Linked DNA regions of Homo sapiens. The protein of the gene in region 2 purifies or fractionates together with the protein of the main gene of each other region. This does not show direct contact. Each region holds a gene or a part of one and is shown on either strand. Other genes may lie near its edges.

The links.
Region 1: the proteins of SAAL1 (region 2) and SLC27A2 purify together in Homo sapiens (co-immunoprecipitation; 3 studies listed by BioGRID and IntAct, with this or other methods). This does not show direct contact.

What each region holds. Positions count from the first base shown.
Region 1 is NC_000015.10:50,185,048-50,188,706, reverse strand, and holds part of SLC27A2 (long-chain fatty acid transport protein 2), read right to left. Parts: intron 1-3,659. UniProt on the Homo sapiens protein: Mediates the import of long-chain fatty acids (LCFA) into the cell by facilitating their transport across cell membranes, playing an important role in hepatic fatty acid uptake.
Region 2 is NC_000011.10:18,092,509-18,096,167, forward strand, and holds part of SAAL1 (protein SAAL1), read right to left. Parts: intron 1-3,659. UniProt on the Homo sapiens protein: Plays a role in promoting the proliferation of synovial fibroblasts in response to pro-inflammatory stimuli.

The DNA of each region.
Region 1 (3,659 bases), on a different chromosome or scaffold from region 2:
ATTACAGGCATGAGCCACCGTGCCCTGCCCAACAGACACTTATTGACTGCCTGCCTACTATGTGCTAGACATTACTAGGGAATTATTCAAAGATATATGAGAGAATTCTAAGCCTTTGAGACAAAGTGCATTGAAACAACTCATTTAAGTTACTCCTTGGGCAGTCCAAAGAGTTGGGAAGAGTGTAGATTAGATTATTTCTGTGCCTTGATTCTGGACTAAAGTTGGCATTAGAAAATTAAATATTTCCTTCTGTGGAAGTGAGGCCACTGCTGTTGGCCATTCTTTGGACTCTCTGAGTCCCTATTTTTTCCATTTCCTGTCCCTTCAGGAAACAGCTTAAAAAAATGACTATTATTAGGTCCAGACTGCCATTGTTCTTACATCGCAATATCCTTTAATGAAGCATCTCACTGTTTTAAGCACCTGATCAGAACTGCCTCTGGTGCTCCTTTTGCCTGGAATGCCCCCTCCCCCACTGCATTTGTTCAGCTCAATAGTCAGTGCCCCAAAAAGCCTTCTCTTGACCTCTGCTTGTTTTCCTGCAGCACTTGTAGCCCTCCCAGCACACTGAGCACATTCTACTGGGTGTCACAATCATTTGTGCATGCGGTTTAGTTCTTTTACTGGACTGTAAGATCCTTGAACTAATTCATCTTATTTCTCCATCCCATCATGGCACAGAGAAAACTAGCTTGTACCTTGTTGGGACTCTCTCTCCTTTTTTTTTTTTTTTTGGTGGCCTCTCCTCCCTCTAAATGTTTCTTGCTTTGAAAATCAAATTGTTGTACCATCAGTTTTTCTCAATCTAATCTCAAAAGTTTGGATGACAAGGGTTATCCTTGGTCCCAACACTTGTTTTGTAATGAAGTTCTTCAGTCTTATAGCTTTTAATGATGCAATATTTTTGAAAGCTATTGTAAGCATTTTTCCTTTATCACATTGTTTAAAGGAGGTCAAATTTTGTTTTCTGCAACCTTGCAAAACCAGGTCAAAGGTAATCTGGAACGTTTTATAACTTACCTGGGACTCAGTTTTGCAACAGAGAGTATCTTTAACTGTTACTAAAGCCTTGCATAAGAGTAGTGCCTACACTGTGGGAGCCTCGCATGGCTGTGTTGAGTTAGGCAGTGTATACCCTGCCAGTGAGCTGATGAAGGGACCCTCAGGAGACCTGGGTTATCTACCCAGTGGAAGAGCTAGTTTATTGATGGTCTTGATGCTAGGATAAATGGAAATGGAACAAATGTACAATTTCAGGCCTCTTTTGTAGGTTTTTATAAAATATCCCATATTGTGTGAAATAAAATATGTTTTACTGTTTTACCCATATTCTGTATTTGGAAAGTTGGGTGAAAAACTACTGGCCCAGCCATGTGGCTTTTATTAGTTACAACATTGATACAGGTTCTTATCCTTGGAGACAATTTTCCCATGTGATTACCTAGATCATACCCTGCCCTGGAGAACGATCCTGAAATGTACAACAGAGAGAAAGTCATATTCTCTGGGAAACAGTGCTGCTGCTTGATTCAGGGAAGTGTTTATGAGTCTTGACTTTCTGTAACTATAGTAAAATTGAAAAGAGTAATTGAGTACTGAAATTCCTGATAGGGTTGAGTCCTGTTAAGTGTTATAAAGAAACCCCCAAATTCATAACAACTGGATCAATCCTCATGATAAATGCCTCTGTGCTGGTCCTTTACATATACTGCAGAATTTGACTGACAGATGGAGCTCAAGAGCTCTTACTAGTCCACAAGCCCTGGGCTGAAACTCAAAATATGGAATCAAACTGACATTTATGTATCATGTTCAAGATGGTGTGATAGAATAAACAGTGCCTCGTAAGTGAGAAAAAAATATTTGGGTTCTATCTCTACCTTTCTGTTCCTAACTATCCACTTGATCATGGGCAATTCATATCATCCCTCTAGGCCTTTGTTTATACAGCTATAAGACAATGAGAAGGCCAGTAGCAGTGGCTCACGCCTCTAATCCCAGCACTTTGGGAGGACGAGGCAGGTGGATCACGAGGTCAAGAGATGGAGATCATCCTGGCCAACATGGTGAAACCCCATCTCTACTGATAATAACAAAAATTAGCTGGGCATGGTGGTGGGCATCTGTAGTCCCAGCTACTTGAGGGGCTGAGGTAGGAGAATGGCTTGAACCTGGGAGGCGGAGGTTGCCGTGAGTCGAGATCGCGCCACGGCACCTCCAGCCTGGGCAACAGAGCGAGACTGTCTCAAAAACAAACAAACAAACAAACAAACAAACAACAATGAAAAACAATGGGAAACTAGACTGTTTCTCAAAGCCTAGTCCTCAGACCATTTGTTTCAAAATCACCTAGGGTTGGCGGTGGGGTTTCTTATAAAAATACACATTCCTGGGCCCCAACATAGTCTTACTGAATCAGCATTTTTGGGGATGATCTCAGAAATTTTATTTTTTTGTTTTGAGACAGGGTCTCACTCTATCACCCAGGCCGGAGTGTAGTGGCACAGTCAGAGCTCAGTGCAGCCTCAACCTCCCGGGCTCAAGCAATCCTTTCACCTCAGCCTCCCCAGTAACTGGGACCACAGGTGCTCACCATCATGCCCAGTTAATTTTTGTATTTTTTTTTTTTGTAGAGATGGGGTTTCATCATGTTGCCCAGGCTAGTCTCGAACTTCTGGGCTCAAGTGATCCTCCCTCCTCCACTTCCCAAAGTGCTAGGATTACAGGAGTGAGCCATAGTGTCCAGCCTCAGAATGTTTTTAAAAGTAAGCTTCCGGCCAGGCGTGGTGGCTCACGCCTGTAATCCCAGCACTTTGGGAGGCCAAGGCCGGCAGATCACGAGGTCAGGAGATCAAGACCATCCTGGCTAACACGGTGAAACCCTGCCCCTACTAAAAATACAAAAAATTATCCGGGCGTGGTGGCGGGTGCCTGTAGTCCCAGCTATTCAGGAAGCTGAGGCAGGAGAATGGCGTGAACCAGGGAGGTGGAGCTTGCAGTGAGCCGAGATCACGCCACAGCAGCCTGGCCTGGGCGAAAGAGCGAGATTCCGTCTCAAAAAAAAAAAAAAAAAAAAAAAAAAGTAAGCTTCCTAGGTGATTCTTGGGCTTATTAAAGTTTCTTCTGTAAACTTTTTTTTTTAAAGTATAACACATTCATTAAACTTACAGGATTATAGGGTTAGAATATCTCTAAGGTCCCTTCCAACACCAAAGAATTCTAAGAATCAGTCCATTCAACATATTTTCCCATGGGCATGTTTAGTAAACATGCAACTCTGTGACAGACTGTAATTTTGCTTCATGTGCAAAGGTATCTCAGTGATTTGGAAAAACTGATTTTTTTTCAAATATGTGGCCTCCCTCAGAGGTCAGTTGACGGTCCAGAGAGTGCCTTAGGTCCACTGTAAAGTCTGGTTCACGTTTGAGTTTAATATAGAAATTCCCATATATTCTCTATGTAAACACATAGCTCTATGGCAGACAACTGTTAGCTGGGTGGGAAGAGGGTATCTGGTTGTAATTCTGACTTTATTGCAGAATCAAACTGTATTATGGTCATTTAATCCTGAACTTCTTTGTCAACAAAACTCCAAACCCTGTGACCTCCCTCTCAGGGGACCTGGGATACTAAAGTGATAAACAGAATTTAAATGC
Region 2 (3,659 bases):
GAAAAACGTAAGAACAAGAAAGGGCAAAGGCAGGAGCTATGCGAGAAGAACTTCTATCGATAAAATGAGTTTTAAATGATTGATAGGAATGAGATATGCAAACAAAAAGACAGACATTCAAATAAGGGGAAAGTATCAGCAAAGGCAGGAAGGGAATCATGTACATGGCGAATACTGTAGACAATAAAGTACTCTGGTTGTGGCACAAAGTGGGTGAACAGCATGAGGTAAATACTGCAGGTATAAAGGACTGAGATTAAGGGCTCTGAATGCCGTGCTGAAGAATTAGACTTAATCTGGGAAGTTATTTGGAATCATGAAGATGCTCAAGGAGGGGAGACAACATACTGAAACAGTATCTTAGGAAGATTACTCTGGTGGCGAAATGCATAATGTATTAGTGTAGTCCCTCTTTATCCATGGTTTCAGTTACCCATGGTCAACCTTGGTATAAAAGTACTAAATAGAAAATTCTAGAAATAAACAATTCATGTTTTAAATTGCATGCCTTTCTGAGCAGCACGATGAAATCTTGCACCGTCTCACCCAGGATGTGAATCATTCTTTTGTTCAACATATCCACACTGTATGTGCTGCCTGCCCATTAGTTACTTAGTAGCCATCTTGGCTATCAGATCGACCATCGGGATATCTCACAGGGCTTGTGTTCATGTCACCCTTATTTTACTTAATAATGACCCCAAAGCACAAGAGTAGTGATGCTGGCAATTTGGATATGCCAAGGAGCCGCCATTAAGTGCTTTCTTTACATGAAAAGGTAAAAGTTCTTGACTTCATAAGAAAAACAAACAAAAATGTATGCTGAGGTTGCTTAGGATCTCTAAGAACAAATCTATCCATGAAACTGTGAAGAAGGAAAAGGAAATTTGTGCATATTATAAATAGGGTTCAGTACTATCCTCGGTTTTAGGCATTGGGGGCCTTGGAATGCAACCCCCAAGGATAAGGGGAGACTAGTGTATAGGGAAAAGAAGTTGAAAAGAACTTAAGAATCTATCTCAGTAATAGTTAATTAATATGTAATAACAGTTTATTACCACTCACGGTGGCCAGGCATTACTCTAAGCATTTTCTGTGTATAATTTCATATAATAACTTAGGTGATAGGTACTAATAGTATCCCCATTTTTTCAGATGAGGAAACTAAGGCACAGAGAAGTTAAGCTACTTGCCTAAGATCTTAAGATCTCCAACTAGAACACGGCAGAGCTCCAGAGCTTGAGCATTTAACCACTATTCCAAACTGCACCTCAGTTATCAAGATGCAAGAGGAGGAGGGCCCTCAGGCATGGAAAAGGATGAAGCTGAGGAAGACTCTCAAGGTGAAAGCAAAATAATCCAGTGTGAGGATAAAGGAGAAAGCAGTTGAACTTGACTCCTAGCTTTCAAGTTGCCTCATTTCCCCATCAGTGATATTGGTCCCGTTGACAGGAAAACTAAAAAAGAAAGTGCATAAAAGGCTACAATGAGTTCAGATGGTACAGTGTTTCCAACCTTGCTGGAACATAAGAATCACTCAGGGAGCTTGTTAAAAATACAGATTTCCAAATCTCATCTCAGATCTACTGAATCATAATTTCCAGGGTAGAGCCTGGAAAGCTATTGTTTACCCAGCATATACCAGGTGACTTTTATGATTAGATAAGTGTGACCATAAATCACTGAGGACATACAGAATTCAGGGTTAGAGAGTACAGCTGACCCTTGAACACAGGTTTGAATGTGTGGGTCCACTCATAGGTGGATTTTTTCTAACCAAACTTGGACTGAAAATACAGTGTCCTCAAGATGCAAAACCTGCACAATATGCAGAGCTGACTTTTCATACACACAGGTTCCACAGAGCTGACTGCTAAATTGAGTATGTGTGGATTTCAGTATGGGGGAATGTCTTGCAACCATCCCCCATGTATACCAAGGGACAACTGTAGAGCGTGCAAGCAGAGAATGCCTGAACAAAGTTGGAGATGTGACATCAGTTATCAGAAGGGAAGTCGAGGCTTTGCTCCTACAGGCAGAGTTGCAACTTAAAGGTGTAAAGAACACATAAGTTCACTAGGAAAATGAATATAATGAGAACAAAGGATCAGGGCCTACACCTTAGAAAAAGTCCATATTCGGGACAGTATAAAAAAGGAAGAAAGAAAAAAGCCAATGAAAGGTGAGAGACGAGTGACTGAAGAGGTCAGAGACGACAGTGAGGTGACACAGGAGCTATAGAAATGGAATTTCAATAAAAAGTGGGTGGTCAAATGTTGGGAAAAGATTAAGAGTGAGTAGGGGCAGAAAAAAACCACATACATTTCCCTTATAAACTAAAGAGGGAATAACTGAACTTCCAATCAAAGATCAAGTTTTTCTTGGCTGTTCACTGGAATCACCTGGGGAACTTTAAAAGCTGCCCAGAGTCTCACACTTGGAGATTCTGCTTTAACTCATCTAGGGTATGGCCTGACCAAGATTTTCAAAAGTTCCCTAGGGTAAAGCTTCTCAGAGTGTGGCAATGCACCAGAGCACCAGCATCACCTGGGAACATATTAGGAATCCTGGACCTACTGGACTAGAAACTCTGGAGGGAGGCTCGGCAATTAGTGATGCGGGGACATGCTTAAGTTTGAGAGTCCCTGTCCCAGGTGATTCTAACATGCAGCCAAGGCTGAGAATCACTGTGGCAGCAGACGGTGGCCAGCGGATATAATACAACAATATGACTAATTCCTAAAAGGTGCCATTCCTGACATAAGCTTATTTCTTTATATACTAGTAGTGAGTAAATATATTTAAGACAGAAAAACTCAGTATAAAAATAGCATAATCATCAAATCTTATATTAATATAAGGAATCAAGGAAAAAACGGTTAATCAGGCCCTAATTCAGAGAGAACATTCTACTTAAATAAGAATTCTAATTCAACATTCAATTTGTAAAAATACACTATGGAATTCTCCATTTTATAATCTGAAAGAGAGGAAATACAGTACAGTGGTTATACTGAAGTCAGGCCTAGGCTGAAATCTCAGCTCCATTCTTTCCTAGCTGTGTGACCCTGAACACATATCTTCACCCAAGATTTAGTTCTTTGAAAGTATACCTCATAGTAGTAAGACCAGGTATTCAGTAAACAGCAGTTTTTCATAATTATAATTATTGAACAGATATTTACTAATCCATGATATGCATAGCACATGGCAATTTAATTGGCAATAAAGCACAGTACACTGCACAGTATATAAAGGCCTCTCCTTTAGTCTTTATCTATTGTTCTTGGCAGTTTACTAACAGCAATGACTACTGAAAGCTTACTTACTTACTTGGGAAGGTGTGGAAGGAAAAGTACCACTGTGAATTAACAGATGCAAATACTGAGAGGGGACAGAAGGCACACAAAGGGAGGCACGGAGACAGCATGAGACAGGGAGTAGAAAGGTCTGGCTAAATCAGAAGGGTTACCTGGCTATCCAGATTTTATGCTGGAAAGATGAGTTAGGTTCAGAGAGTAGAGGTCTTAAGCAGCAGGCTGAGTTTAGAATGGTTTTCAAGCAATGGTGGATTTTGTCAGTAAAAAAGAGAAATCAACTGAAAAATGGGAGGCCCAGGCTCTGTTCCTTGTTCTGATACATACTAGCAGCATAACAGT